Regions from separate parts of the Homo sapiens genome. Here region 1 is linked to region 2. Evidence: fine-mapped expression QTL. A gene starts in region 2. The other region holds a variant in brackets. All regions are shown on one strand. Distances are from middle to middle.

Region 1 (15,778 bases), 41 kb before region 2:
GCTGCTCAGTGCTTTCATTTTAATACCCCAGATGTCTTCTAACCTCTTTCCTTCCTGTATCTTTTATTAATTTTTGAAAATTGTACCCTTCTCTTATTTTTGTCATGATAAAAAATAAAGTTGTTTTTGGTGAAACCCCACCTCTACTAGAAATACAAAAAAATTAGCCAGGCGTGGCAGCACGCGCTTGTAGTCCCAGCTACTCTGGAAGCTGAGGCAGGAGAATCACTTGGGCCCGGCAGGCGGAGGTTGCAGTGAGCTGAGATCGCTCCACTGCACTCCAGCCTGGGCGACAGAGTGAGACTCAGTCTCAAAAAAAAAAAGAGTTGTTTTTTACATTCTGTGCACTTTATAGCATCCTTTGTATCTGGGAGACAGAGCAGCGTGTAGAAGGAAAAGCTCAGACTGGAAAGCAGCTCGGCCTGAGCTTTATGCCCAGTCCTTGTACTCACTAGTTGTGTTAGATGATGGGCAAGCTCCGTGTCCTTGTCTTCCTTGCTGGGTAGCCTTGCAGGGTGGCTGTGAAGACAGAAACTGGGTGACGGTGCCTGGTACAGGATAGGCTCTCAGTAGGCAGCAGCCATGATGATCATCATCACCTAAAGCCCACCTCCTGCAATGAACTTTTTTGGTCTTTCTACCGTGTTGTCTCCCCATGAGTGCCGTACTCCAAGTGTGCCAAGTAAGAAAATTCGCAGAGAATAGCAGAAGGTGAAGTAAAAGCTAAGTTCAAAGCTAATTAGGCATAAATATGATTGGAAATTTTACATATGCTGTTGCATGCATTTAGGTATAAGTGTTGAATGGCCTTGGAATGTCTATTACTAGAGAAGATGGAAATAACTGAGTATTATATGTGTGTGCAGTAAATATTAAGCAATAGCAGATGACATTTGAAATGCAATTTTTGTTTCAATCTAGGAACAAGAACTTTTCTTTTTCCACGATTTGAGTCCTGGAAGCTGTTTTTTCCTTCCCAGAGGAGCCTTCATTTATAATACGCTTACAGATTTCATACGAGTAAGTTAACTTTAAAATGTTTTATTCTTATTCAATTCCAGTTTACATTTTTACTATTTTCTCTCATAATAAAGTGGTCAAGCGTTTCCATTAACTTTACTTTGGTAACATTAATAAGAATTTTGAGGTTAAAAGTGAGATACTGGCCAGACACGGTGGCTCACACCTATAATCCCAGCACTTTGGGAGGCCAAGGTGGGCAGATCACCTGAGGTCAGGAGTTCGAGACCAGCCTGGCCAACATGGTGAAACCCTGTCTCTACTAAAAATACAAAAATTAGCCGAGTGTGGTGGTGCACACCTGTAATCCCAGCTACTTGGGAGGCTGGCAGGAGAATTGCTTGAACCCGGGAGGCAGAGTTTGCAGTGAGCCAGGATTGTGCCACTGCGCTCCAGCCTGGTGACAGAGCAAGACTCCATCTCAAAGAAAAAAAAAAAAAAAGTGAGGTACTAGATTGTACCTTCTAATAATAACATGGAGATAATTTCTGTTTCCCCTGAATACATTCCTGGATTTCATAAAATTCACTTTTTGTCCATATAAGTTTCTAAACCATGTAGAATATAAAGGTAAGCATTAGACTAAGTGTGGCACTCCCTGTGAAAAAGAAGAAAGGAGAAAGTGTCGTCTCTGGTACAGAGTGTTAAGCCATGAAGCATTGCTTCTCCAAATGTGCTCCATGGGCCACTGATGCTTCCCTTTGCCTATAGCATGACTCCCAGGTGATTTGGCAGTTCCAGAGGAAAGAGGAAAAAACCAACAGTGCAAAATACCTACTTGTATTACAAGTTCATAGGTGGGAAAGTCTTTAGTATTTACATGATAAGGACTGTGTAGATAGTGTTCACAGGTGATCCGGGTGGACTACTGGGATTACATTTCCATGCTTGCACTGTTTTGTCTTTCCTATAATCATTACCTAAATTTTTCATTTACTTAGTTTTTTTATGTGCCTACCACTAATTCATGCTCCAATTTCTCTCAAAAACTACAAATCTCCTTGCAACATATTCTGCAATGATTCAGGTAATTGCTCAGTAATTTTTTTTTTCAAATTTGGTCCTACTCCAGAATTAACTTGCTACTAAGATTCTTGCAAACTGATGGCTTAGGACTTCTTTTCATCATCATCTTGGCCACTCCCCTCATGTCTCTTCCTATGCTGAGTCTCTTTTCCTGGTCCCTGTATATCTCTTCGTTGCTTATCTTTAATTCTCATTTGGGGATCACTTTCTTCAGTAACTTTCTGAGAAGACAATCCATGGCATGTGGCCTGCACTGGTTATTCTCTGTTTGCTTCTCCAGTCTTGTTCTCCGTCTTTTTCTTCTTGTGCTGTGCCCCTGGAGGCTGACATGTCTGTATTCTATCACCTGGGGTACACATCTTCCAGTAGGGACTGGCCAATGCGAGGCAATGGTAGGAGATCAGAGGGCAGTGGAAGAGACTTGAAGAATCACTGAAGATTATCAGAGATTTACATTTAGGCAGGTGGTGATGACCATCACAGCTGCTGATTTGGATGTGCTGTCTTCTCTGGAAAATCAGCATGGCCCCTGGCACCTTGTACTCTCAAGTTGGGAGTACAATAGATGGAGAATGAACAGAAAGCCTTTACAGTGGCATTAAGGGGATCTCTTATTTTTTATAGATGCAAGACAGATGTGGCTGATGAACAGGAGCAGGGCCTGATTGTGAGGGTCACCAAACTGTAAAGGCACTTAAATGCACAAACCCAGTGATCTCTTATTCTAAGGTAAGGGCACTGGTTGGGAAGGGTCCCTGAGGCTTGGAATGGGAATATTTGACAGACACAGGCGACACTGAGAACTTTGCATTTCTGGATACCTTTGTCTGAAGGAATTGGCCTTACCATGAAAAAAACCTTTTGGAGAACTCAGCTGTTTTTTCTGTTGGTTTTTTGTTATTATGGTTGTGTCACTTCCCATATCAAGTAATATTTTGTTAGATGCCAAGTATTACATGTAATTTAGGTGTAGAGGCTCTAGATGATATCTCCCACTGGAGCATTCACCCTCTGCCACTATTAAGGACTGATCATTGAATTCGATCAGAGATTGCACTGGGTTAGGGCCGGCTTCCACTTTAATAAGATTCAACTTTTGATTCCTGTTTCTAGGTCATGACCCCCTTGGGTTTCCACTTGACAGGCTGGTGGGTTTATGTCTTTTCAGCCCCAAAGGACTGTAGGGAAGTCCATTCTACTCTTCCAAAGTGTTCTATTCTTAACAAATAATTCCAAGGCTCATCTAATTACTACATTGGCTCAAAAATCCAGGACATCTTCTGAATCAGGCCTAGCTGCAGATGAGGCTCCTCGGGTGCAGTTTGTTGGGAACAGATTATCAAGTACATTTCCTCTACAGTTTAAGACCTGTGAACTAAAAACTCAAGTTATCTATCAGCCACCTCATCCTCTCATCTCCCTCACATTGTAAAATGGTGCTTGAGGAATAATGCAATAGATAGTCTTACTCAAAAAGGAGTGGGGTAGAGTAGGAGGCACATGGTAGTCACCATCTGTAGAAATTCTGGTATCTACCGGTCATCACTGCCCCAGGGTCAAAAGATACACTTTGATTAAGATCCAGTTTTGCTCTGCCTGGCTGTGATTCTGCCCTCTGAGTCATCCTTTCTCTTCCATAAGAAATGGCCCATATGTGCCTTAGGGTAGCTTTCTTTTTTAAAAAAAAAAAAATTATTTATGTATTTTTTTATTTTTTATTTTTCTTTGAGACAGAGTCTCGCTGTGTCGCCCAGGTTGGAGTGCAGTGGCGTGATCTCAGCTCACTGCAACCTCCTGCCTCCCAGGCTCACGCCATTCTCCTGCCTCAGCCTCCCGAGCAGCTGGGACCACAGGCGCCTGCCACCATGCCAGGCTTTTTGTATTTTTAGTAGAGACAGGGTCTCCCTGTGTTAGCCAGGATGGTCTAGATCTCCTGACTTCGTGATCCGCCTGCCTCAGCCTCCCAAAGTGCTGGGATTACAGGCGTGAGTCACCGCGCCCGGCCTGGGGTAGCTTTGTTCTCAACCTGATTCCTTCCTGTAGAAGGCTGGGGGAATCCAAAGCCCTTATTTCATTTTGTGCTGCCTTTCAATCTAAGCTAGTACAATTCCTTTAAAAACTTTGCGAGTCCTTTTCTATAAATTTATCATCAACACGGTTAGATAAAAGCCACATCCACATCTTTCTGACACCGATCCTTCTTTGCCTGGGAGGCTACTGTGAGACAATAGTACACTGCAGAGTCTTCAGAGCCTTCGTGTTTAATGGAAAGGGTCTACAAAGCACACTCCTAAGACTTTCAGAAGCCTTACTAGGTGCACTTACAGTAGATCATTCTGAGGTTTTCACAGTGTCTTACAGCCCCGCCCTTAAGATCTTTACCGTAAGGCTGTGCTTTGATGATTATAATCTGAATTTGATCCGTGTCCTGAAGCCTCGTGAGTCTTTTTTGGTACAGTCTAAGGATAAGAAGGTTTCATTTTTGAACCCAGCAGGTCCTGGTGGCTTTATATTTCCTCTAAACTTGGCTCAAAAAGTTAATTAGTTTCACGTTTGGTTTATACCTCTTTTCTTGTATTTTACCATAGGGAGCCAAAAATCGGCTGTCATTTTCTACATTCTGCCTGGACGTCTCCCCAGCTAAGTCCATGAGTTCTTTGGGTACCCTTTCTGTTTTCCATGTTACTTCTGGTGACAGTGTTACCCACCATCTGTTTCTGGCACCTCGTAATAAGAATCCCTTCTAGCTTCTGCCCACCACCTGGCCCCAAAGCTACATGTTTTAGGTTATTGTTATGTCAACTGAAGAATCATGAGGTTCATAAAATTGTAAAGGAGAGCTTCATTTCTTCTGAGGGGTTGCAGCCTGAAATCTTGCAGGCTAGGAAGCTTCATAGCTTCTGGCAGAAACCAGAAGCAGGCATTTCAAGGGAGGGAAAAGTAAGACAGGAATTTATGCTGATGAGATTGGCCAAGTATAAATATTTAACAGGTTATAAGAAGAGCTATGAATATTCACAAAGGGGGGACATTTATATACATAGTAAGCAAACATGCATGTTACATGCATCCCTTGTTCACTTTGGGGTGGAGACAATGCATTTAAATTAGGCTGTATAACCAAAAGGTCAAATGGAGGACACGGAGGCATCCCATGTGCAGCCTTTATAAACCAACCAGAACCAGTGCATGGTGAGTGGTCTTTTAACAGGAAGAAATGCTGCTCAGTTGTGTAAATCAGTGGTGGAACAAGTCTTTCAAAAGGGCTTGTTTCTGATTAACTCTTAGGAAAGAAAGCCTAATGGTTGTTAGTGACAGAGTGGGTATAATTAGGCATGTCCAACCTCTTGTCACTGCCAGTAACTCAGTTTTTAAGGTTTCTCTGGGGTCCTTTGGCCAAGAGGGTGTCTGTTCAGTCAGTTGGGGAGCTTAGGATTTTATTTTTATTTCTCAGTTATAGCAGTACCTACATCCAGTGCAAAATTCTGTTCTGGATGGCTATTGCAACATAGCAAAGTATCCCAGAACTTAATAGTTTAAAACTGCCATTTCATCATTACTGTCTTTCATAGTTCCAAATTTTAGGCTCCTGTGGGTGGTTCTCGCATTGGGTCCCTTACATGACTGTATTCAGGTAGAGTCTCATGCCAGGGTTATTGATTGAAGAATGTCCCCTTCCCATCATAGAAAGACTAAAAACATCAGGCATTGGCAAGAATATGAAGCAAGTATAACACTTACTGCTGGTAGGAACGTAAAATGGTAGAACTACTTTGTAGCAGTTTGGCATTTCCTGTAAAGATAAACGTGCCCCACTTCTTTTTTTTTTTTTTTTTTTTTTTTTTTTTTGAGACAAAGTCTCGCTCTGTTGCCCAGGCTGGAGTGCCGTGACGCGATCTCAGCTCACTGCAAGCTCCGCCTCCTGGACTCATGCATTCTCCTGCCTCAGCCTCCCAAGTAGCTGGGACTACAGGCGCCTGCCACCACCATGCCTGGCTAATTTTTTTGTATTTTTAGCAGAGACCGTGTTAGCCAGGATGGTCTCAATCTCCTGACCTCGTGATCCACCCACCTCGGCCTCCCAAAGTGCTGGGATTATAGGCATGAGCCACCACCGCGCCCGGCCTTTTATTTTTTTATTTTATTTTTTTCCTAAGATGGAGTTTTGCCCTTGTCGCCCAGGCTGGAGTGCAATGGCATGATCTCAGCTCACCACAACCTCTGCCTCCCAGGTTCAAGTGATTCTCCTGCCTCAGCCTCCCAAGTAGCTGGGATTATAGGCATGCACCACCACACCCAGCTAATATTTTTGTATTTTTAGTACAGATGGGGTTTCTCCATGTTGGTCAGGCTGGTCTCAAACTCCCAACCTCAGGTGATTTGCCCGCCTCAGCCTCCCAAAGTGTTGGAATTACAGACGTGAGCCACCACGCCAGCCCCCACTTCTAATTATCCCAAGATAAATAAAAACATATGCCCGCATCTACACTGAGACTTGTATTTGGATGTTCATAGAAGCGTTACTTATAATAGCACAGAACCAGAAACAACCCCAGATTCAGCTTGTGAAAAGATAAACATAATGTGGAAAGTCCATGCTGTGGAATACAACTCAGCATTTACAAGCAGTGAGATACTGATATACACATGAAGGAGGAACCTCGAAAGCATCGTACTAAGCCAGATAAGTCAGAGAATGCATAAGGCACCATTCCATTATATGACATTTCAGAAATGCCAAAACTATAGTGACAGAAAGATGATCAGGAGTCCAGTGGGTGGGGAGAGGGGATTGACTCCAGGGGGTCAGGAGGGAACTTCCTGGAGGGTGGAAATGTTCTATATCTTGACTGTGGCAGAAGTCGCATGACTGTATACATTTGTCAACAGTCACTGAATTGTACACTTAAAATTGGTGAATTTTATGGCGTGTAAATTTTACCTCAAGCCATTTTGTGGTAAAATACACATAATATAAAAATTTACCATTTTAACTATTTTTAAGTATGCAATTCATTCTCACTAAGTACATTCATGTTATTATGCAACTGTCATGGTCCATCTCCAGAACTCTTTCCACGTTGCAAATCCGAAACTCGCCAGGACTTTGTCATCATCCTACACTTAATCTCTGTACCCACTAAACACTAATTTCCATGCCTGCCTCCCCCAGCCTCTGGTAACCACCACTCTAGTTTCTGTCGCTATGAAATTGACTATTTCTAGGTGTCACATATAAATGGGTTCATAGGCTATTTGACCTTTTGTAATAAAACTATCTTTTTAAAAGTCTCCTTTGGTGTTGACATAGGCAAGCTAGCTTTCTTACATTAGTGTTTGCATGATATATCTTTTCCTATCCTTTTATTTTCTGCCTCTGTTTCTATATTTAAAGTACGTTGCTGGAGAAAAGAATACTGTTGGGTCTTGATATTTTTCA[G/A]TCTATCTGCCTGTGTCTTTTTTCCTCTCTGCCCTCTTCCATGTGCCTCAAGGTCCTCCCTGAGGTTCCAGTTGGTTCTGTTAGTCACCAGCCAGTAGAGGGTGTGCTTGTGGGACAGACTCTCAGTCACAGCTGGGCTGCCTCAGGGGCCATGGTCTGGTCCAATATCAGTAGCCTTTGCCTTGGTGCTGAGTCCTAGACCAGTCAGTAGTAGCCAGAGTGCTGGGGATACATGGTGCTGAGCACGATGGAATATATGGCCGCATTCTACCAGGAAGCATCCTTTTCCTCAGAACTGGAACTGCTGCATTTCTGTGGAAGGGATGTAGGAGGCCAGGATGGGCTGGGTGTGCACACTGCTCCCACTGAGGGAAATTTCAGGATTTCTGAGTTTTTGACTCAGGTAAAATGACTTCCACTTAGGTTTAAGTAAAGGCAAGTGAACTTTTGTTTGTATATTAGTTACTGACTGTGTGGACAACTGATAGTGAATAAATAGATCTTTTTGTTAGTCTCCTTGAATTTTTTTTTCCCTGCATTCTGGAAAATATCTGTCAGCTGATTCTGTACTTTTCTTACCTTTTTTTAAATTAACTTTTTTAATTGTCATGCAGTAAAATGTACGCCTTTTTGATAACATGCAGAACTGTGTTATCACCTCAGCAATCAAGATACAGAACAGTTCCGTCACCCCTCAAAACTCCCTCATGCTACCCTTTTAAAATCAAATCCTCCCCAGCCCTGACCTCAGGGAACGGCTGATTTTTTCTCTACCCCTAAAATATTGGCATATAAATGGAATCATACTTTTATAAAACCTTTAGAGACTGACCGCTTTCACCCAGCATAACACCCTGGAGATGCATCCGAGTTGAGTGTCCCCAGCGGGCCTCTGCTTTTGTCCCTGGGCAGTATTCCATCATATGAACATACCACTGCTTCAGATCCATCCTGCAGTTGAGGGGCATTTGGGTTGTTTTCAGCTTTTGGCAGTTATGAAAACTGCTATTGTCATTCATGTACAGTTTTTTGTATGAACATAGGTTTTCATTTTACTAGAGTAAATACCTAGGAGTGTGATTTCAGGGTCATATGGTGATATGGTTTGGCTGTGTCCACACCCAAATCTCACCTTGAATTGTAGTAATCCCCAAGGGTCAGGGGTGGGGCCAGGCGGAGATAATTGAATCGTGGGGGTGGTTTCCCCCATACTGTTCTTGTGGTGGTGAATAAGTCTCTTGAGATCTGATGATTTTATAAAAGGGAGTTCCCCCGCACAAAGTCCCTTGCCTGCTGCCATTTAAGATGTGCCTTTGCTTCTCCTTTGCCTTCCACCGTGATTGTGAGGCCCCCCCACCAGCCATGCTGAACTGTGAGTCCATTAAACCTCTTTCCTTCATAAATTACCCAGTCTTGGGTTTGTCTTTATTAGCAGTGTGAGAATAGATATGGTAAATTTAAGTTTATAAGAAAATGCCAAACTATTTTCCAAAATGACTACTGTTTTGCATTCCCACCAGCTGTGCATGAGGGTTGCTTTTGTAAAGCTCATCTCAGTCACACCTTTTGCATTTCCTGGAATCTGCCTGACTTGTTGATGCATGTCTTGAAACCCTGGAGTGGGGAGGGGAGTGGCTTCTCTTGTTGTTATATTAATAACCCACTTGGGGAATTTTTGCTTCCTCTTCACACAACCTTAGATGGAGTGAATTTCTAGACCAAGCTTGTCTTTGTGAACATGGCAGGCCTCAAAACATTCAGCTCTTCTGCAGGGAGAGTCCTGAAAGATGCACTCCAAGGGTTTAACTGAAGAGAGTCTAGTGAAGGAAGTATTTATGGAGATATGGGCCTGGCTAAGGTAACTAACAAGGGATGATAGAGCGCCCAGGGATTACCAATAGCAAGAATCCCTTCCCCTCCATCACTAGGCCTGCAGAAGTGAGGAGATGGAGTAGTAATACTAGAACCCACAGAGAGCTTGGAGCCATGGAGGAGAGAAGTGAGGAGATGGAGTAGTAATACCAGAACCCACAGAGAGCTTGGAGCCATGGAGGAGAGAAGTGAGGAGATGGAGTAGTAATACCAGAACCCACAGAGAGCTTGGAGCCGTGGAGGAGAGAAGTGAGGAGATGGAGTAGTAATACCAGAACCCACAGAGAGCTTGGAGCCGTGGAGGAGAGAAGTGAGGAGATGGAGTAGTAATACCAGAACCCACAGAGAGCTTGGAGCCGTGGAGGAGAGAAGTGAGGAGATGGAGTAGTAATACCAGAACCCACAGAGAGCTTGGAGCCGTGGAGGAGAGAAGTGAGGAGATGGAGTAGTAATACCAGAACCCACAGAGAGCTTGGAGCCGTGGAGGAGAGGCCACACAACAGAAGCTGTAACTGTGGAACACAGCCAGAACCTGAGTAAACCCACAGCAGGGAGAACCAGGGAAAGAAATATCCAGACCTCTCTCTTCCACTACCCTGTGAATCCTTTGGAACTTCCCATTGGTCAGACCCAATCAGAAACCATATGGAAAGTATATTGGCATGTCAGGATTCTCCACAGAAACAGAACCAACAAGATACATAGAAAAGAAGAGATTTATTATGAGGAATTGGCTTGTGTGATTATGGAGGCCAAGAAATCCCATGATCTGAGGGTCCAAGAAAGTTGGAGATGTAATTCTCGCCTGAGTGCAGAGGCCTGAGAACCAGGGGAGCTGATGAATCTAAAAAAAGGAGAGAGCTCAGGTACATACACAGAGAATTAAACAGTGCTTACCATGGTCAGGGGTTGGGGGGAAGAAATGGGGGGATATAGATCAAAGGATACAAAATAGATATCTAGGATCAACAAGGCCAGAGATCTAATACAGAACATGAGGACTAAAGTTAACAAAATTATATTTATCAGGGAGTTTTGTTAAGTAATTAGATTTTAACTGCTCTTGTCACACACACAAAAAAGGTAACTCTTTTACTATTTGTGTCCTATAACATCATGTTGTGAATCTCAAATATGTGAAATAAAATTTATTGAAGAAAATTTAAAAGGCTGGGCATAGTGACTCACTCTTGTAATCCCAGCACTTTGGGAGGCTGAGAGGGGTGGATCGCTTGAAGCCAGGAGTTCGAGACCAGCCTGGCCAACATGGTGAAACCCTGTGTCTACTAAAAATACAAAAATTAGCCAGGCGTAGTGGTGCACATTTGTGATCTCAGCTACTTGGGAGGCTGAGGCAGGAGAATTGCTTGAACCCAGGAGGTAGAGGCTGCAGTGAGCCAAGATTGTGCCACTGCACTCCAGCCTGGGCAAGAGAGCAACACTCTGTTTCAAAAATATATATATATATATATAAATACTGAGGTAATAGTTCTAAGACTGATACCCATTGGCCGGGCGCAGTGGCTCATGCCTGTAATCCCAGCACTTTGGGAGGCTGAGGCGGGTGGATCATGAGGTCAGGAGATCAAGACCATCCTGGCTAATACGGTGAAACCCCATCTCTACTAAAAATGCAAAAAAATTAGCCAGGCGTGGTGGTGGGCGCCTGTAGTCCCAGCTACTCGGGAGGCTGAGGCAGGAGAATGGTGTGAACCCAGGAGACGAAGCTTGCAGTGAGCTGAGATCACGCCACTTCACTCCAGCCTGTGTGACAGAGCGAGACTCCATTTCAAAAAAAAAGATTGATACCCATTAAATAATTTTCATTGCTGAAGGAAATGTGAGGAAACAGTTATCATATACTTAGAGAGAAAGTTTAAATTGCTACTAATCTGGTAACAAATATTAATGTGAAAAAAATGCACACTCCTAGCAATATTCTTAGAAAGGAATCTAAAATATACAATTAAAATCACATAGAAAAAAACTTTACTGCAGAATAGTTTGTAGTATTCAAAAATGAAAAGTCTAATGTTTCTCAATAGTAGAAGGATTAAATACTTTGTGACATGTCCACACAATAAAGCACTATGCAGTTAGTACAAAAATACATCTATGCATACTAACTTGAAGGGGGTTCAGTATACCTCACCATTGAAAACTGGAAGTGACAGAGTAAATGTATAGTGTATCCTTTCTTTTTATAGGTAAAAGCAAAAAACAACAAAATCCTGTATGTGTGTTTTGTGTTTGCACAGTCATGGAGGAGAGGGTTGAAATACAGGAACAGCAGGCCATTAGCATTATCTCAGGGCAGTAAAGGGTGGAATGAGAGAAAATGTTCAGGTTTTCTTTATACACCTTATTTTTTTCCACATGAAACATAATTTAAGCATGTTGTATTATACTATTGTGTTTAAAAGTATATATTTTATAAAATAAAAAAATAATAATCACAGCAAGTAAGCCTTGTGCGGAGCCCACAGAAGTCAGCTTTGGGGAACACAGTGCAGGGCAGAGAAGGAAGGAAAATGGGCCAAGATGAGGCGAGACAGGCAGTGGCAAATGGAAAATAACCAGCCTGGCTCACCCCCTGTGCCTCTCAGCACATTCTTGCCTTTTGCTTGGAGGACACTGAGGACATTGGTTTCCTCCCACAAACTCCGATCAGCCGATGTGTCATCATGTGGTGATGTCATTTCAGTTTCACCTAAATCTGAATCGTGCCATTGGCCACCATGAGTGCCCTTCATGTAAGAATGCAAGGAAAAGTCATAACTAAATGTAACTGTTTCAGCCTCTGTAGATGGACGCTAGGGCCAAGCTGATACATCAGAGCCTTCTTTTCCCATCACTCATTCCACATTCGCCTTATCCTGGTGGCACCCCAGATGGGCATTGTTTTATTTGGTGGGTGCATTAGTTTCCTAGGGTATTATAACAAAATACCATAAACTAGGTGACTTAAAACAACAGAAATTTATTATCTCCCAGTTTTGGAGGCCAGAAGTGTGAAATCAAGGTGTTGACGAGGCTGTGTTCCCTCTAAAACCCATGGGGGAATCCTTCCTTGCCTTCTCCTAGCTACTGTTGGTTGCCAGTCATCTTTAGTGTTCCTTGGCTTGTTGAAGCGTCATTCCCATCCTCTGTCTTCACGTGATGTTCTCCCTGCGTGTCTTCACATTGTCTTCCCCTTGTGTGCATCTGTCTCTGTGTCCAGATTTCTCCTTTTTATAAAGAGACCAGCCATATAGTATTAGGATCTACCCTAATGATCTCATTTTAATTTGATTACCTCTATAAAGACCCTACTTCCAAATAAGGACACATTCTGAAGTACTAGGAGTTAGGACTTCAAAATATCTTATTTGGAGAATACAGTTAAACCAATAATAGTGGATGGCCTCAGTCTGTCCTTAGGATCCAAGGTTTTAGTAATGCTCTTTGTGGGGTTTCAGGGCTCCCACTGATGGTTGTTGCTAGATGTGTTGATATCAAAGGCTCCCCACTGAATTCCAGACACAGTCCTCCTTACTCCATTGTAAGCAATACGACTTCTCCCAGTAATTGCGATCAAGGGTAGTAAGTCTTTCCCCAAGTAATTGGGATCAAGGGTAGTAAGTCCTTTTCTGTCTATCAGTTCTATAGTAAAGGGAGCCCATAATGGGCAATGGACAATCTCAACTCCCAAGCATGTCTCAGTTTTTGGTGAAAACATACTTTGGGCACCAAAACATGTTATCGAAAGATTCCAAAGCTCCAAGGATAAAGAAAATATCCTGAATGTTTCCAGAGAGAAAAAAGCCACAGACATAGGACTGGGTATCTGAATGGCATTGAAATTTTCAGTGGAAACACTGAAAAACAGAAGACAGGAACAATGCCTTAGTAATGCGAAGCCTAGAAATCTATACCCAGTTAAAGTAGCTTGCTTCTGGGTTTCTCCCACTGCCAATTTAGTTTTGGCTTTCCTAGGTCTTCTGAGGCAATTAACACTTGATCACCTACTTTGCAGATTCTAACTTATTATAGCATTCATCTTCTCTCCTATTTTCTTTGTCCTGGTAGATTTATGCTCTTATAAAAACTTTCTTTACTCTTATTTTAATGGGGTTTTGGAAAGGAGCTGTTTATGTGGAATTGCCTTATTTTTTACAATGAGAAATTACTTGAAAACAAATTTATGACACTGATTCTTAGAAGCTATTTAGATGTTTTTAAGTGGCCAGATCACTAGGTATGGGTAGAGACTCAGCTCCTTCAATAACCTAAACTGGTATTTCCAGGATGAAATATGATTTTTAATGTTCCAGATAAGTTATCTGGATTTCTTCAGGAGACTGGACTGAGCTGTGAACTGCTCAGTCACTGAGAGTTTACTCTTTCCCAGCATTAGAGAAAGAAATTAATGGCATGGCATGAGACATATTTTACTCCCCAACTTTTTCTCTTGAAAAGTTCAAATCTAGAGAAAAACTAAAATGCAATGCAATGAACATCCATATTTCCTTCATTTGGATTCATTAGTTGGTAATATTTTGCCAGTTTGCTTTATCTCTCTGTTATTTATATGTGTGTGTGAGAGACAAAACAATATGTATATTACAATATGGAGAGATACAGCAGCATAATATATATAGATATCTCCTATATATTTATGTAAAAATATAATAGTTGCTGACACTTCATCTCATAGGGATTATATTCATTAGTTTGTGCTGCTATAACAAAGTACCCTAGACTGGGTAGCTTATAAACAACATAAGGGTATTTCTCACAGTTCTAGAGGCAGTAAGTCTAAGATTAGGGTCCCAGCATGGTTGGGTTCTGGTGAGGGCCCTCTTCCAGGTTGCAGACTGCTGACTTCTTGTAACCTCAGATGGCAGAAAGAGGACCAGAGAGCTCTCTGCGAATCCTTTTATAAGGACACTAATCTCATTCATGAGGGCTCTACCCTTATGACCTAATCACTTGTCAGAGGCCCTACTTCCTAATACCATCACCTTGGGGTTAAGGTATCAATATCACAATTTTGGGGGAGACACATTCAGTCCATTGCAGGGATAGTTTAAAATCATTTCTAAACATCTCAAGAAGACATACATTCCTAACATGGTTGCATTCAGAGTGAATTAAAAATGCATTGAGCAGTATCTCCTGAGCTAGACTTTAAAAGTAGTTTTTAGTAAAAGCGAACACGCACACCCTGCCACACACACACCCACACACTCACCCTTAATTTCTGGGACCTTGTTTAATCTGAATATATGGAACCATCTGAAATAGCCAATAATCACTGCCATTCTTAATGACATCATTTTGTTAAACATTTTCTTTCTTTTTTTGAGATGGAGTCTAGCTTTGTTGCCCAGGCTGGAGTGCAATGGCGTGACCTTGGCTCACTGCAACCTCTGCCTCCTGGGTTCAAGCGATTCTCCTGCTTCAGCCTCCTGAGTAGCTGGGATTACAGGTGTGTGCCACCACGCCTGGCTAATTTTTGTATTTTTAGTGGAGATGGGGTTTCATCATGTTAGCCAGGCTGGTCTCAAACTCCTGACCTCAGGTGATGCACTTACCTTGGCCTCCCAAAGTGCTGGGATTACAGGCGTGAGCCACCACACCCTACCTGTTAAGGTTTTCTAATTTAGTAAAAACAAAGGATAGGTAAAGCAGCTCACTGAATGGCCGAGACCTAAGCTGTCTACCGTGGACTGCCAGGATGCCCTGCTGAAGAATAACAGACAACATTCCTTTCAGTTGTATAAAACCATTGTTAGTAATCTTAAAATGTTATGTTTTATGTTTTTTTAGCTGTGAAAACAGTTTTTCAAATGTGCTCAAAGTATACATGGCATTCTAGATTTGGGCCAGATGTCCATTAAGTGGTTTACAAATGTTGAGAATCTAAGGATTCTCAGAATTCTTACTTATTCAGCTTTTTGTGTTCATCCAAATTAAAACTGTCATGCAAAGGGTCCCTATCAAATTACTGTCAAAACAATTTGACCTAATTGACATTTGTAAAACAACAGCAGAATATGCATTTTTGGAAAGTGCACATAAAATATTTACCCAACAAAGATCACCTAATTGTTTTGTTTTTAAAGAAAGTTTAAATAAAGTTAAAACTTTGCTTGGAAAAAAACTCTCTTCTCCTGTCTCCAGTAATTCAATTAGGGAAGCTGTTAATAGGTAGGGAGGGAGAGAGGCCAGCTCATGACTTAATAATTTCAACTACTTAAATCGTTATACACTAAAATTCTTATTTCTGTTTAAAACTAAATAAATCAAAATTATAACATGCAACATGGCATTCAGGCTTATTAAATTATAAATTTTTTCTGCCTCTTAATAGGAAAAAACCTGTTTAGAAGGACTTTGGAGTAGTTACAGTGAGTTTCTATATATATTGTATTTCAA
Region 2 (15,284 bases):
CACTCAGAATGGGCCAACAGAGGTGGTATTGCCACCAAAAGGCCCCCGCTGTTGAGGAATTTTTCAGTATTCCAATACAAGAGGACCCATTCTGTTAAAATCAGCTGCTTTTTCCCCTAGTTGTTGCTCAATGGCTCATGGGCAAAGTGGCCACTGGTGGATAGGCATGGGCTCAAAGACATGGACTTTGCCTCACTAAGTTCCATCTGGCTACATCTCTTCTGAGAATTCAGGTTGCCATCAGTCAGTGATTAATTGTGATCCCCCGGGATGGTACCATAACCTGGGGTAATAGCCAGTGGTCTTGTAGCAGGTTGATTACGTTGGATCCCTTTCATCATGTAAGGAGCAATGCCTCATTCTCACTGAAGAGAGACTCACTGTGGATTTTGCTTTGCTCTTCTTTGCTGCCATGCTTCTGCCAGTGGCACCAAATATGTACTTAGGTGCTGCCAGGAACACAACAGTGCTTCTGACTATGAAAGAGATTTTATAGCAAATAAGTAAAGCATTGCACTGACATTAAGGGATTCACTACTATCACCATGCATTCAGAAGCAAGTGGCTTTACTAGCAGTTATAGCACCAGCTGGCAGACAACATCTTGTGATGATGTATCCTAGTATGTGGAAATGCTGCAAACCAGCAACCACCTGTGAAATTTCTACCTCCCATTCCATTTTTAGAAATTGGCTAAGCATCTGCTCATGCAGTTTAGCTCTCTCTTCAGAAACTACTGCCCCCACTGCTACTATTGCCGGGCACAGTCCCTGCAGCTCCCACTGTGGACACTGGGCACCGGATGATACTGCTAGGGTCACTGCAACCAGTTCCTCCAAAAGCTCCATGTCTCTGCATCACCTTTCCTTGCCATAATGGATTCCATGTGGTGCCTCCTTCTCCACTCTGTCTTAAGTCAGAGTGCCATGTTTATACATTAGCAGAACCTAGATCACACCCATGCATACTACCATTCATGTCCAGCGAGACTGGGGAAGCAAATTTTTGAGCAGGAAACATAAGGTGGAAAGTTTCCCAAACAAAGTGTCTTCCAAAAGACCTGGGTAGCTAGAGAGTCTGTGTATATTCCTGATATTTTGTGATCATAGAGAAATATACTTAGGTATCATGGAGTTTCTAAGCTGTTGAAGTTACAGTTAAGCCAAAAGTATGGGTATGAATATGTATGCCGCCTGAGTATGAGTTAACATGTTTATATTTCTTTCCAGTTGGTTTTAAATAGTTTACCATAGGTAAGAGATGATGGTGTTTTGCATTAGAATGGTTGCAGTGAAAGTGGTTTAAAGAAAAGAGAGAGAACTAGTGAAATAGGAGATGGAGAGGGAGACAGGAGGTGGTTGGGGCCAGTGCACTGAGCATGCCTTCCTTTGTCGCAGAGACGGAAGTATACTCCCTGCACTTCATACATCCAGACTTCAGACAGCAGTCAGCCTTGTGGGGAAATCTCCCCAGGAGCCAAAAGTAAAGATGGCTAAAGTGTGGGTCCTTGAGAGGAGTAGGGCTGGGGATGGGATAAGGACAGAGCTCAAAAGGAAATATGTAGTTGCCATTATATACCCTGTATTTCTGTGTTCTACCATTTATCATGTATTGTTTTGTGTTTGTAATTTGAGAATAAATATATAAATATGCACATTTATAAAATGCTATCTGAAATAGTCCTCCTTGCATGTCCTTTCACCTTCAGACTAAATACTCACTATGACAGGGAAAGGGCAAACATGTCCCACAGCGGACACTGTTTATACCTACCCTGCCATCTTTTTTATTCTAGAAAAATTATATTTTGAAATAATTGTAGGTTCGCATGTTGTTCTAAGAAGTTATATAGAGGCCGGATGTGGTGGCTCACGCCTGTAATCCCAACCTTTGGGAGGCCGAGGTGGGTGGATCACCTGAGGTCAGGAGTTCAAGACCAGTCTGGCCAACATGGTGAAACCCCGTCTCTACTGAAAATACAAAAATTAGCTGGGTGTGGTGGCAATGGCTGTAATCCCAGCTACTCAGGAGGCTGAGCTAGGAGAATCACTTGAACTCGGGAGGCAGAGGTTGCAGTGAGCCGAGATCACGCCACTGCACTCTAGCCTGGGTGAGCAAGATTCCATCTCAAAAAAAATAAAAAAGAAGTTATACAGAGAAGTCCAGCACACTCTTTACCCAGTTTTCCTCAATGGTAACATCTTGCAAAACTAGATACAATATCACAGCCAAGAACTAGACATTGAGACTGTCCACCAACCTTGTTCCGATTTCACCAGCCTCACATGCACTCATTTGTGTGAACGTGTATTTAGCTGTGTCACACGGACAGATGGTGTAAGGCCACCAGTCAAGGCACAGGACAGTCCATCACTTGTAAGGCTCCCTCCTGCTGCCCTTTTTTCCCCACACTCAAACCATCCCACCCTGTCCTCCTATCTGACAGCCATGAACTTGTTCTCTAGCTCCATCATTTTGTCATATAAAGAATATTACATAAATGGATTTACAGAGTACACAAACTTTTGAAGTAGGCTTTTTTTTTTTCACTCAGTGGAATTCCCTTAAGAGCCATCCATGTTGTTTTGTTTCGAGATAAATTAGTTGGTTCCTTTTTTTTTTTTTTTTTTTTGCTGATGGTGTTCCACGTTCCACAGTGTGGATGCACCACAGTTTGGCCATTCACCCGCTAAAGGACATTTGGGGTGTGTGTTTCCTGTTTGGGGCTATTATAAATAAAGCTGCTATGGACGTTAGTGAGCAGTATTGTGTGTGAACCTGCGCTTTCATTTCTCTGGGACAAATGCCAGGAGTGCAATTGCTGGGGCAGACAGTAAGTGCATGCTCAGCCCTTTGGGCTGTCTGCCAGCTCATTCTACCTGCACTTGTGCTATCAAAATTCCAAAATTCTCCTTTCATTTACTTTGCTGCCTTCAAACTTTAATATAATTTAGTTTTCTTCCATGCTGCGCTACTGAAACTGCCCTCTTGTGAAGTCTTTAAAAGAATCTTTGGTTATTTGAAAATCATGTAATAAGTAGCCATTATTACACTTTGAAAATACATATTTTATATATATTTTTCAGGCCTTTCTGGCTATCTCCTCGTCAGGTGATGGTCATCCCTGTGGGGCCAACTTGTGAAAAATATGCACTTCAGGTAAAATCAGAGGTGTTTAAAGTACATAATAATCTTGCATGTATTCTGTGTAGGTCATCGATTTGGAGTGTCCTTCATGCTTTAAAATATTGCAGAACTGACACATTAGCTTAAACCGTGTTTTCAGCAGGTGGGAGTAACACACGAATCATGTCTCTGCAGCTGTCTCAGAACTATTTCATTCTTAATGTTTTTTGAGAAATTAGTATTTTAAAACATATCATAATTATTCATTTCTACACAGCTCTATTAGGGAAGAATATTATCTGTTGCTGTGTCACAAGTGACCCCAAAACTTAGCAGCTTTAAACAACAAACATTGATGATCTCACAGTTCCTACGAGTCAGGGTCTGGGAGCAGCTCAGCTGGTGGATTCTGGCGCAGAGCGTCTCCTGGGGCTGCAGTCAGGCTGTCAGCCAGGGCTGCGGAGCTCGGGGCTCGCTCACAGTTGGTGGATGCAGCTCCTCATCACCTGGGTGCTTGCTTGCCTGAATGTCCTCACTGCATGGTGGCTGGTTTCCCCCAGAGCAAGTGATCTGAGAGAGATGGGAGCTGCAGCCTTTTATAAACTAGTCTCAGAAACGATGCGCCGACACTTCCGCACTTCTTTATGGTCACGCAGACCCGCTCTGGTATAGTGAGCAGGGAACTATACAAAGGTGTGAATACCAAGAGTGGGGAACAACGGGGTCTTCTTGGAGGCTAGGTACCATAATGTAACAGTAAAGGTGTTTCATTTTCTTCTAGGTATCCAGTGAATTTTTTGAAGAAGGATTTATGGCTGACGTTGACTTGGATCACAGTTGTACACTAAATAAGAAAATACGAAATGCACAGCTGGCTCAGTATAATTTTATTTTGGGTAATTTAAGTTTGTATATATTTTTCCAAATGCTTTTTTTTCCCACTTCAATTCCAAAAGACCAAATAAGAAATATGGTTCAACTACTTGATTATCATGATTTGTCTATTTAATACTTACACAAAAGGAAGAGTCCATAGCATTCCTAGCTTAGCTGTTCCTAGGTACTCTTTGTTGTTTGCTGGAAGAAGAGTTGTAAAGTTTCACCTGAATCCCCTGGGATAGTTTTACTAGCAATAGTTCATATTGCAAGCAAACAACGAAAACAACTCTGAAAATGATCCCATCAGTAGAATTATATACTTTATATTTCAGCCTCACAGGCCTGTAATATTTTCCCTCACTTTTCTGGCTTATTAGGAAACTTTGGGATTAAACTAACAGAAAGAAAAGATCCCAAATTTAAAATGATCTAAAGGAAAAGATTTAGATGAAAAGTAAAATGTCCTTTTAGCATATGACTAATTAGATGCAGAATCTAAAATTTAGGCTTTAAAAATGATTCCAAAATTAAGAGAAACTAACACTGATATAACTGCAGGCACAGTATTGCTATTTCTTGTAAGTTGAGAGTCTGTAGAAGGCGAAATAAATATGCATAGCATTGTTCTATTGACAGTGTTTCAATGATAATGTTTGACACCAGAGTAGGTATTGTGCTGTTTCAGTCAGGCTTCTTATGGTGGCAGAAATCTCAACTTGGTTTAGACAAAGACAGCATTTGTTGGAAGGGTCTTGGAGTATCCCATGACATGAAAGGTAGAATTAAATAGCCAAACCACTAGAAGAGCAATCAGGAGCTCAACCCTCACCAGGAGTATTTCTCCCCATTTCTCGTTCCTGTCTTGCTCTGGTTCTTTATGCTTCTCTTGAATATCTACCTTATTCCACTTATCTGCAGACCGGTTTCTTCCTTCTGTGTGGCAAGAAGCATGGCTGTAGATTCCTGCATCATCTCACAATATGGGTCACTAGAGAGAACAAACTTTTTACCCACATTCCAGAAAGTTCTGGCTGGCTCGCATGGGTCTGGTGTCCACTCCTTGGCTCATCAGGTATGCCAGGTGGAGTCAGCGTGAGCCTGTAAGAGCTCCCCGCTCTCATCTGCACCCTAGTGCCAGGTGGGGTCAGTGTGAGCCTGTAAGAGCTCCCCACTCTCATCTGCACCCTAGTGCCAGGTGGGGTCAGTGTGAGCCTGTAAGAGCTCCCCGCTCTCATTTGCACCCTAGTGCCAGGTGGAGTCACTGTGAGTCTGTAAGAGCTCCCCGCTCTCATTTGCGCCCTAGTGCCAGGTGGAGTCACTGTGAGCCTGTAAGAGCTCCCCGCTCTCATTTGCGCCCTAGTGCCAGGTGGAGTCACTGTGAGTCTGTAAGAGCTCCCCGCTCTCATTTGCGCCCTAGTGCCAGGTGGGGTCAGTGTGAGCCTGTAAGAGCTCCCCGCTCTCATTTGCGCCCTAGTGCCAGGTGGAGTCACTGTGAGCCTGTAAGAGCTCCCCGCTCTCATTTGCGCCCTAGTGCCAGGTGGAGTCACTGTGAGCCTGTAAGAGCTCCCCCCTCTCATTTGCACCCTAGTGCCAGGTGGGGTCAGTGTGAGCCTGTAAGAGCTCCCCCCTCTCATCTGCGCCCTAGTGCCAGGTGGAGTCACTGTGAGCCTGTAAGAGCTCCCCCCTCTCATTTGCACCCTAGTGCCAGGTGGGGTCAGTGTGAGCCTGTAAGAGCTCCCCGCTCTCATTTGCGCCCTAGTGCCAGGTGGAGTCAGTGTGAGCCTGTAAGAGCTCCCCGCTCTCATTTGCACCCTAGTGCCAGGTGGGGTCAGTGTGAGCCTGTAAGAGCTCCCCGCTCTCATTTGCGCCCTAGTGCCAGGTGGGGTCACTGTGAGCCTGTAAGAGCTCCCCGCTCTCATTTGCGCCCTAGTGCCAGGTGCAGTCAGTGTGAGTCTGTAAGAGCTCCCCCCTCTCATCTGCACCCCAGGACCACAAGAGCTGTTCTCTCAGGTGGACAATAGAGAGATGGGATCAGAAGTCATTGCTTCCCTCAAGAAACTTAACTATCAGAGGATGAACCAAATGCTCATTAGATGATATTTAATATTAGTGAAGAAAAACTTGATAAAAACATGTCATGGGACTGCTGACTTAATGTTTGGTAAATTGCTGATTTAAAATACATTTCTTTACCTTTCTTTTCTGCAGTGGTTGGAGAAAAGGAAAAGATAGATAATGCTGTAAACGTGCGAACAAGAGACAACAAAATTCATGGAGAGATTTTAGTAACTTCTGCCATTGATAAACTGAAGAATCTCAGGAAGACACGGACACTCAATGCTGAGGAGGCCTTTTGAAGTCCTTCCCTGATATTTGCTTCTGTGTAACTTTGTTTTGACCCTTAAAAATGTATTTTTCTTAACATGTTAGTACTTCTACGACTTTGGAGCCACTGATGGGTCCACTCATGGCCTCAGCTGAGAAAGGAGACGATGAACGTGTAGCTGACATGCACGAAGTTTAATTTACTCATGTCCACGGGGGACGTTTAGAGGGCACGTGGGAAATTTTCCAGCAATCAATGCCTTGAGAAACTTAAATGGGGAAATATTATTCATCGAGAAAGTGAAACAAAACACTAGGAAATGATTATGAAATGTTAGTGATTTTCAAAAGATGGGCTTCAAATAAAAGTCTGCAGAGTTTTTTTTAAATAGGAGGGAAAATCTTATTTTCTAATATGTCTCAGGTATTTTTATGACTTCTACTAAAATTCACACTGAAACTTTATCTTCTAAACTGGAATCATTACTTAATTTTAACTAACCAACAACCACAAAAGCAGCAGCTACTGCTAAATATTGGATTACTGACAAAGGAATTCAGTTTTGTGGAATCTGGTGTTTGCACTATAGGTTAAGAGTTGCCATTTAAATGTTTCTTATTCATAATTAGGTTTTGTTCCGCTTTAGAAAAAAATAAATTCCCAAATGAATTGCATCAGTGTTTCCAGCGTTTCAGCTGTGGGCTTCTACCACCACTAAGCCGCTCACCTAGAGTTGTTACTTTTTTGATGGGATGACATTCCATGGATTTATGTACTGAAATGGATTTCAGATTTTAAAGAGAGGAATGCTCTACGTGCTCAGAACTGAATTAAAATGGCATTATGTCAATAGAGAATTCAGCTACCAAACAAGAAGTATTGTTTATTTTGCGATATGCTGTGAAATTCAAAAGAAATGTAAGAAATAATCTCTTTTCAATATACTGATCATTTAGTTAACTTCCTGAGGGATGTGAACAGTGAAACAGTTGGCAAACAAAACAATATATATCAGGCTTGTGTAGTAGTATAAGGTGCAGATTGTGTGATATGATTTTTATTATTTATTTTTTGAGACGGAGTCTCGCTCTGTCACCCAGGCTGGAGTGCAGTGGCGCGATCTCGGCTCACTACAACCTCCGCTTCCCGGGTTTAGGCGATTCTCCTGCCTCAGCTTCCCCAGTAGCTGGGACCACAGGCGCGTGCCTCCACGCCTGGCTAATTTTTTTGTATTTTTAGTAGAGACAGGGTTTCACCGTGTTGTTAGCCAGGATGGTTTCGATTTCCTAACCTCGTGATCCGCCCGCCTGGGCCTCCCAAAGTGCTGGGATTACAGACGTGATTCACCGCCCCCGGCCGTGATACGATTTTTAAAGCTAACATTCAGGGCTTATGTGCCGGCACTTTTCCATGTATTTTTTAAAAAGTCATTCAGCAAACATGCACGTGAGGGGGTGGTAGTCAGAAGACCGCGGAATGAACGATCCCGAAGCACGTGGGTGGGAGGAGAGCACCTGTCACCAGCGCTTTCTCCCAGGTGTGCTGTGACAGAAACCGGCAAGGGTCTCCGCAAGCTGGGGCCTGAGCGCGGCTCCCCAGACGGCCGCGACCTTCCCCAGGCAGGGCTGGGCTCTGGACCCTCCCCTCACTTCCCAGCGCCTCGGGCCATCCTGCTTCTCCAGGCCTGAGAGGAACTTTCTGGAAGTGCTGCGTATCTTCAAGAGGCCGGCCAGAAGTGAAAGCCGCGGCAGGCCTGAGCGCCGGCCCCAGGGGAGGGGTCCCTCGGGCCCTCGTCGTCCCGGGGCCGCTTCCCCGACTGTAAATAAGTGTCTTTAGGATGAAACGCCACGCGATAGTGTCCTCGGAACCTTCGCACGAGATCCAGCACACAACATCCGACCACACACTGGGGCGGCCAGCCTCCCGCGTTCGCCCGCCTCTGCTCTTGGTTGCTTCGGGCGCGCATTTCGGTCCACGGATGACCTTTAACAGGTCTCCTGCAGTGGAACCAGGGGTGAGGGCCTCGTCCAAGGGCGTGAGGGGCGCGTGGAAATGGAACAACCTCCCAGGCTCGCATCCTCCTCGGGGACCTCCCAGAAGGCTCAACCGGAAGAAAACCCGCGACCCGCGCGAGGACAGCGAAAGCGCAAACGCCGGCCGCCAGGAGTCGCAGCGCGCCTGCGTCCAGTTCACGCTCCGGCTCCCAGGCGCGCCCCGCCCCCCGGCCCGGAAGTGCGCAGGCGCTGGCAAGATGGCGGGAGGGGTGCTCCCGCTGAGGGGCCTCCGCGCCTTGTGTCGCGTGCTGCTCTTCCTCTCGCAGTTCTGCATTCTGTCGGGCGGTGGTGAGTCAAAGGCTGGGTTCAGCGCCGGGTGGGGCTGAGTGGCAGCAGGGCCCCGGGAGCTGCGAGGAGGCCGGGCCCACGGGCGGACGCTGACGCGGGGAGGAGGCCGAGTGCCGGGCTCCGGGCCGCTTGTCGCTGCATCTGGAGTCTGGCGCCCTGGCCGCCCGGCCCGAGGCCGCCCCTCCGCTCCGGCGACACCGAGCCCGCCATCGCGGCTGCGGAGCCCTGGCACGGAGATGGAGCGCTTGGGGGCTGGGCCGGGGAGGCGGAACTGGAGCGCGATGTCATCCTTCGGTCCCTCGTTGCCGGCTGACCTGAACTGATGTCTACTCTGTTGACGTTTCGTCCCTAAGCTTTGTGTTTTCTGGCTGACCAGCCGTGAGGTTTTCATGAGCAGCTTATTGGCCTGGTGTAGACCCGCCGTGTTAACCACACAAAATAAGGTTTTCTTGTCCCGGGATAACGTGTTTCTCTAATTGTACGATCCTTAAATTTAGAGCAATCGCAGGCGCTGGCTCAGTCAATAAAGGATCCGGGCCCAACACGCACATTCACAGTAGTTCCCAGGGCAGCAGGTACTAGACGTTTTCTATTCTAGTAAATACATGTAGTTATCTCTAGTAGTTTCTCTTTGTTTTTATAAAAATTCCCTTTAGTATACGAAGTCACTTTCCATTTTTGAATATTTATTGTATTTTAGATTATGTGAATTAAGGGTAGATACACAGCCATTTTCAGTAGATAGTCTTCGTATTTATACCTTTTGACGTTTCTGCCTCCTCTCTTTTTCCAATCCCACGCTCATTTGTCACCTTATTTCTATTATTTTTCCACTTCATCCATCAAAATAACCTTCAGTCCGTGCTTCTTTCCCTTCAGCAAATTTCCTCTACTGCTAAAACCCTGTTCCTGATGTTGGAATATTAAAGGCTCCCTCAGGACTGTGGAAATGGAAGGATTACAGCGGGACTGATGGAGACTTGAAATCTAGATCTGGTTTTGCTACTGGGATCTTGAACAAATTATTTATCCTCTTTGGACCTTGGTCCTCATCTTTAAAGCGGTGGGGTTGGTCTGACGACCTAAAGTCATTTCTGCTTTGTGATTCTAAGTGTCCACCTTCCAGCCACATAGTCACGGGATCAAAAAGAGTATTTTGTAGAATTGTTCCTTAATACAGTGAGTAAAGTAGGACCAGTTTTAAACAAGCATTAGTGTGTTTTGCTAGGTGGAGGCTCTGACTATAATTTCATCACTTTAAAGTGACATTACTTCAGTGAATTGAAACTGGCAGAGATATTTTACTGATTCTTATTTGGATGTAAAAAACAGCAGTGCACTTGAATTTTAAACTCAGATTACTTTTTAGAGAAAGCACAAGAGTTCTTAACTCTTGCAGGCTTTTGAAAGCCCTTCTTTTCAGGAATACTTGCAATTTTGATCCTTTCAGTTGGTAAAAATACATTGCACACTCATTAGGTTGGTTGGAAATAAGTTGCAGCTTACTGAAGATGTTATTAAAGTAGAGAACTGTTTTGAACTTTGGTAGCGTAAAACTGTAAATATTATATTAGCAAATGTGGCTTATCGAAGTACCAGTGTGAAATAATGACATTTTAAAGTTGATGCCCTGAGGATGTCAGTGGCTTCATTTCTGAATTAGTGAATTCAGATGAAAAGAACACGGGATTGGAAATGGAGAGATTTGGGTTCTAGTTCCAGTTTTGCCACAGACTTCCTCTGTGATTTTGCAAAACCCTACTGTAAGTTTTTTTTCAACTTACAAAATGATAGTCTTTTTTTTAAGCCCTTAATGTATACCCAGAATTTTCTATACATTATTTGTATATGAGCACCTTTAGTTTTCACGGCCACGTGGGAGGCAGGAATGAAGTAATGTTTTACAAGTGTGGTGCTCACCAGGTCCCACAGCTGGCCGTGGGCAGAATTCTGCTTTAATTGCAGGTGTCTCTGACTCCAGTCCCATGCTTCTTCCCTTCCAGTGCAGTGTCTACTTGCTAATGATCACGTCTCTTAACCTTAGAAGATTGTTCTCTGTTATTCGAATCAGTATTATAGGAGAATAAGCTTCTCTCTTGCCTCTCACAGAAAGTACTGAAATCCCACCTTATGTGATGAAGTGTCCGAGCAATGGTTTGTGTAGCAGGCTTCCTGCAGACTGTATAGACTGCACAACAAATTTCTCCTGTACCTATGGGAAGCCTGTCACTTTTGACTGTGCAGTGAAACCATCTGTTACCTGTGTTGTAAGTACTGCAGCTTACTTATTCTAAATAAATTCATTGTAAACTTTAAGTTAGAAGAACAATTCAGACTTGATTATTGGGAAGAAATTCTGAAGAATTTTTATATTCTTTTATGATTTCCCTTTTGAGTATGTAAGCAGAAATAAATTAAAAAACCCAATAGACCTTTCCATATCAGCTCACTACTGTTTTAGTTATAATGATAACTGTCAAGCCAGTTGATGTCTGCTGGAAATGCACTTGACAGAAATGTTGCTTTGTAGGACTGGAGAAGATCTCAGTCTACTAGCATATCTGAAGCAAGTCTAATTCGTTCAGATGGATTCTGTGTTCTCAATAGTGACAGCTAGTGTACAGAGGGGGTGGCAGTGTCTTTCTGCCATAGATGAGCTTTTGAAGGGCCAGTGCTTATCTGTGGTGAGAAGATGGATTCAGTAAATGCCGGAATGCCTGGTAGCTCTCTAGAACAAAATTAAGTGGAACGCCTGTCTTATCCAGAATAAATTCCAGATAGTCCAAAGATGTAATGTGAAAAATGAAACCCTGAAGTACCACAGAAAACACCAGATAGTTGCTGTTATAATCCCAAAATGGAGAATATTTTTCTAAGTATGAAATAAAGTTTAGAAGCCATAAAATAAAGAATTGATACATTTGACTCCTAAAAATTGGAGATTTCTGCATGACCTAAAAAAAAAAGCATAAAGGCAAAAGACATGGCAAACTAGGAAAAAGCGTTTCTAGAATATGTGACAAATAATACAGTAATATCAGTAATATATAAACACTTCCTAAAACCCACACGGAAAAGATGACAGTCTTGTAGAAAAACAGTGTTAGGACATGAGCAGATGGTTCATAGGAAAGGAAATACAAATAGATATATAACATGAAAAACATATAAGTTTTCTCATAGTATTTAATTAATACATTTTTAACCCTTAGATTGGCAATTTTTTTTTAATTTGATTAACTCTGAGTTTGTGAGAGTATAAGGGTCAGATGCTCATATCTTATTAATAGGTAATCAAATTGATCAACCTCTTGTAGGCGATTTGCCATATCTGTTAAACTTACACATGCACACAATCGTTGAGCTCGTAGTTGTACATGTAGGAATTTATGTTATAGATATCATTATACATGGATGCAGATAAGTGTGCTTATTTTTTAGCTGCATTGCTCATTAAAGCAAAAGATTCAAAAGAAGTGAAATGTCTAAGAACTGCTTAATTTATGGTACACGTGTAATAGAATAAACACCTTGTAGCCATTAAAAAGAACTAGGCAGCTCTAGAGGTAATGTACTGATAGATGTCCAAAATTAAGTGAAAGTATTGGGGAACATTAAATGTAGGTGACATAAATGTGCCTATGTGTAGAATCAGCTCTCTCTGGAAGCACAGAGCGTACTTGGCCTGGGGAGGGCAGGGGCTCCCGGCGGCTGGGCCAGACGAGGCCGGCTCACTTCTCACTCTCCTGTTGTGTCTTGACATGTGTTCCATGTACATGTGTCACCTACTTTTTAAAAAACCATTAAAAAAAGTGTGTTTTAAGCACATCACTGAAAATAGGCAGATGTAAACGTATTATTTTGCAGATCCAACTGTTTGCCTAAATCAAGTGATGCCTTACCCATATTTGAATGTTTTCCATAAAAAGTGGTTTTTGCATTGATAAGAAAATGAATAGTACTTGCTTCATCAGCGCATATGCCAAAGTTGGAACCATACAGAGAGAATTAGGATGGCTCTTCTGCAAAAATGACATGCAAATTTGTGAAATGTTAAAAAAAATAACAAACATGGGCCGGGCGTGGTGGCCTACACCTGTAATCCCAGCACTTTGGCAGGCCGAGGCAGGTGAATCACCTGAGGTCAGAGGTTGAGACCAGCCTGGCCAACATGGTGAAACCCCATCTGTACTAAAAATACAAAAATTAGCTGGGCGTGGTGGGGTGCGTCTCTAATCCCAGCTACTCAGGAGGCTGAGGCAGGAGAATCGCTTGAACCTGGGAGGCGGAGGTTGAAGTGAGCCGAGATTGCACCACCGCATTCCAGCCTGGGCGACAGAGCGAGACTCCATCTCAAAAAAAGAAAAAAAAATAATGTGTGTATGTGTATATATATGTATACATATATATACATGATGCTTCCAGAGATGTGTGACCACATAAAAATGATTTTGAAAAATATGCACTGCAATGTAATGTCAGGTAGAGTAAAAAGACTACAAAGTGCTTTCAGTATAATTCCATTTTAGTAAATTTATAAATATACATGTAGAAGAAACGGAAAGAAGATTAAAAGTGGTTAGCTCTGAACACCTATAGGTTTTTGTCTATAATCTTCAAATATGTAACATACAAAGAACATTCTACTTTTGTAAGCAGAATACAAAATAATGGCTTTTAAAATTGAAATGAAAAATTCTCTGGCCACCAGTGAACACTCACTGAGCCTCCACACACCATGTGGTGCTTCTGAGTTGGGCTGCCTCTGGATTAAACATGCCACATGCCCTGGTGGTAGGAGCAGCTGTAACAACCCTGAGTTGCCAGGCTGTGCAAGGTAGGGGATGTTAGGGAAGGTTGGCAACTCGGAAGCAAGGCGGTGTGTTAACCATTACAGAAGCATCAGGCTGGAGTTCAGGGACCTGGATTCCACTCCTCACTTGAAGCTCAGTGACCTTCAACAAATGCATTCATCAGTTCCTTCCAGCCATCCGTGATTGTGACTTTCTAAAATAAATTTTCCTCTTTTCTGCATTATAAAAGTATACGTTTACTATGAAAAATTTAGCTAAGCAAAAGTTATGAAATAATTATATCACCCTGAAATAACCTTTGCTATTTTGATGTGAATTTATCTAGTTTTTTCCCTTAAGTACATATGTTTGGGTGTGTAGTTTTATGATTATGAGGTCACATCATAGGCATTTGTTTTACATACATATTGTTTTGGTAACTGTTTTTCTGGCACTTACTCCTAGGTCCTAAATACAAGCATTTACGGAATTTTGTGCCATGTGACTGTGTAGTCTTACTGACATCTTAACAGACTACACCATTGTGATTGATGAGTTTTGTGTCATTTGCTACATAGGATCAAGACTTCAAATCCCAAAAGAACTTCATCATTAACATGACTTGCAGATTTTGCTGGCAGCTTCCTGAAACAGATTACGAGTGTACCAACTCCACCAGCTGCATGACGGTGTCCTGTCCTCGGCAGCGCTACCCTGCCAACTGCACGGTGCGGGACCACGTCCACTGCTTGGGTAGGTCAGAGTTCAAGGACATTTGTCAACAAAATGTTTTTCTCCAAGTTTATTGAAGGGACTTTAACCAGAAATTTGCGAGTCAAGTTACTTAATTAGAAACATTTATCAGCAGCTCTTTAGATGTGCCAAGCATCATCAATAAACTCAACGTACTAAAGTAAAGCATCCAGAAAATTGCAGTTCTTTTTAAATGTAATATTTGATAAAATAAGAAAAACATTTGAAGTATAAAGCATAATACACAGTAATTGACCTTTACCCAAAATAACAATGAAAGCAGCACCAATACCATTGCGGCCGCCTGAGTGCCTGAGTGCTTGCCTTCACCTGGTTGCCTTTCCTCCTCTTCCAAGGTAACCACCCTTTTGAATTTTTTATTTCACTTCCTTTTAAATTTTTTCTGTAGTTTTATTGTCTATATGTAATAAAATAATATTCAATAATGCATGTTTTAGAACCGTGTAAAATGATTTCAGGCTGTGTGCTCTTCTGGGACTTGCTTATTTCCTAAACATTGTGGCTCTAGGATTCATCCACGTGACTTCTCTTCTTTTTTTTACTTCTGTGTAATAATCTATTGTAAGATTGTATCACAGTTTATTCTCCAATATATTTGGTTAAGTGCTGTTTTCCGCTGTTGTGACTGTTCAAATTTCTTTGCCTGTCTCCCAATGGCACAGGTGCAAGAGCTTCTTCAGCATGTACTTTCCAGCGTGTGTCATTCTTTAAATGGCTGTATTGACTGGCATTCCCACCCGCGCTATGTAACTGTTCCTGATGAGCCATATTCTCTCCAAGAGTGGTTATTCTTAAATTTGGTCTTAAAGTTGTCTAGACTTCTTTTATATTTTGGATATTACCTGTGCTGTCCCTGAAACCCTCTCCCAGATTTTGATTTTTTTTTTTTTTGCATTATTGTATATTTTCATGAACAGAACTTTAAAAATATAATTACTGGAAGTTATTAGAGTTAGTCCTTTTTTGTGGTGGTTTTAAGAAATCTTTTTCTACCCCAGGTTAATAAAGACAATTTGCTACATTTTCTTTTGAAAGTTGTAAGTA

What was found. PIP is the estimated chance that this variant, and not a neighbour inherited with it, causes the effect.
Region 1: its variant is fine-mapped to the expression of TM2D3 in whole blood (INTERVAL, PIP 0.91).

What each region holds. Positions count from the first base shown.
Region 1 is chr15:101,686,328-101,702,105 of GRCh38, reverse strand. TARS3 (threonyl-tRNA synthetase 3) reads left to right here. Exons shown (of 19, transcript NM_152334.3): 10 at 922-1,020. Among named protein-coding and RNA genes, the nearest start is that of TARS3, 30 kb to the left of the region's middle. The variant G/A (reference allele first, on the strand shown) is at 7,487.
Region 2 is chr15:101,645,660-101,660,943 of GRCh38, reverse strand. It overlaps TM2D3 (TM2 domain containing 3), which reads left to right and starts at 8,563. Exons shown (of 6, transcript NM_078474.3): 1 at 8,563-8,673; 2 at 9,171-9,248; 3 at 10,783-10,940; 4 at 14,045-14,219. The coding sequence starts at 8,583. It overlaps TARS3 (threonyl-tRNA synthetase 3), which reads left to right. Exons shown (of 19, transcript NM_152334.3): 17 at 3,087-3,159; 18 at 3,908-4,022; 19 at 6,214-7,348. The coding sequence ends at 6,362. It also overlaps the pseudogene RNU6-807P. RefSeq lists enhancers at 7,269-8,159, 8,266-8,325 and silencers at 7,986-8,175, 8,416-8,975, 14,139-14,305.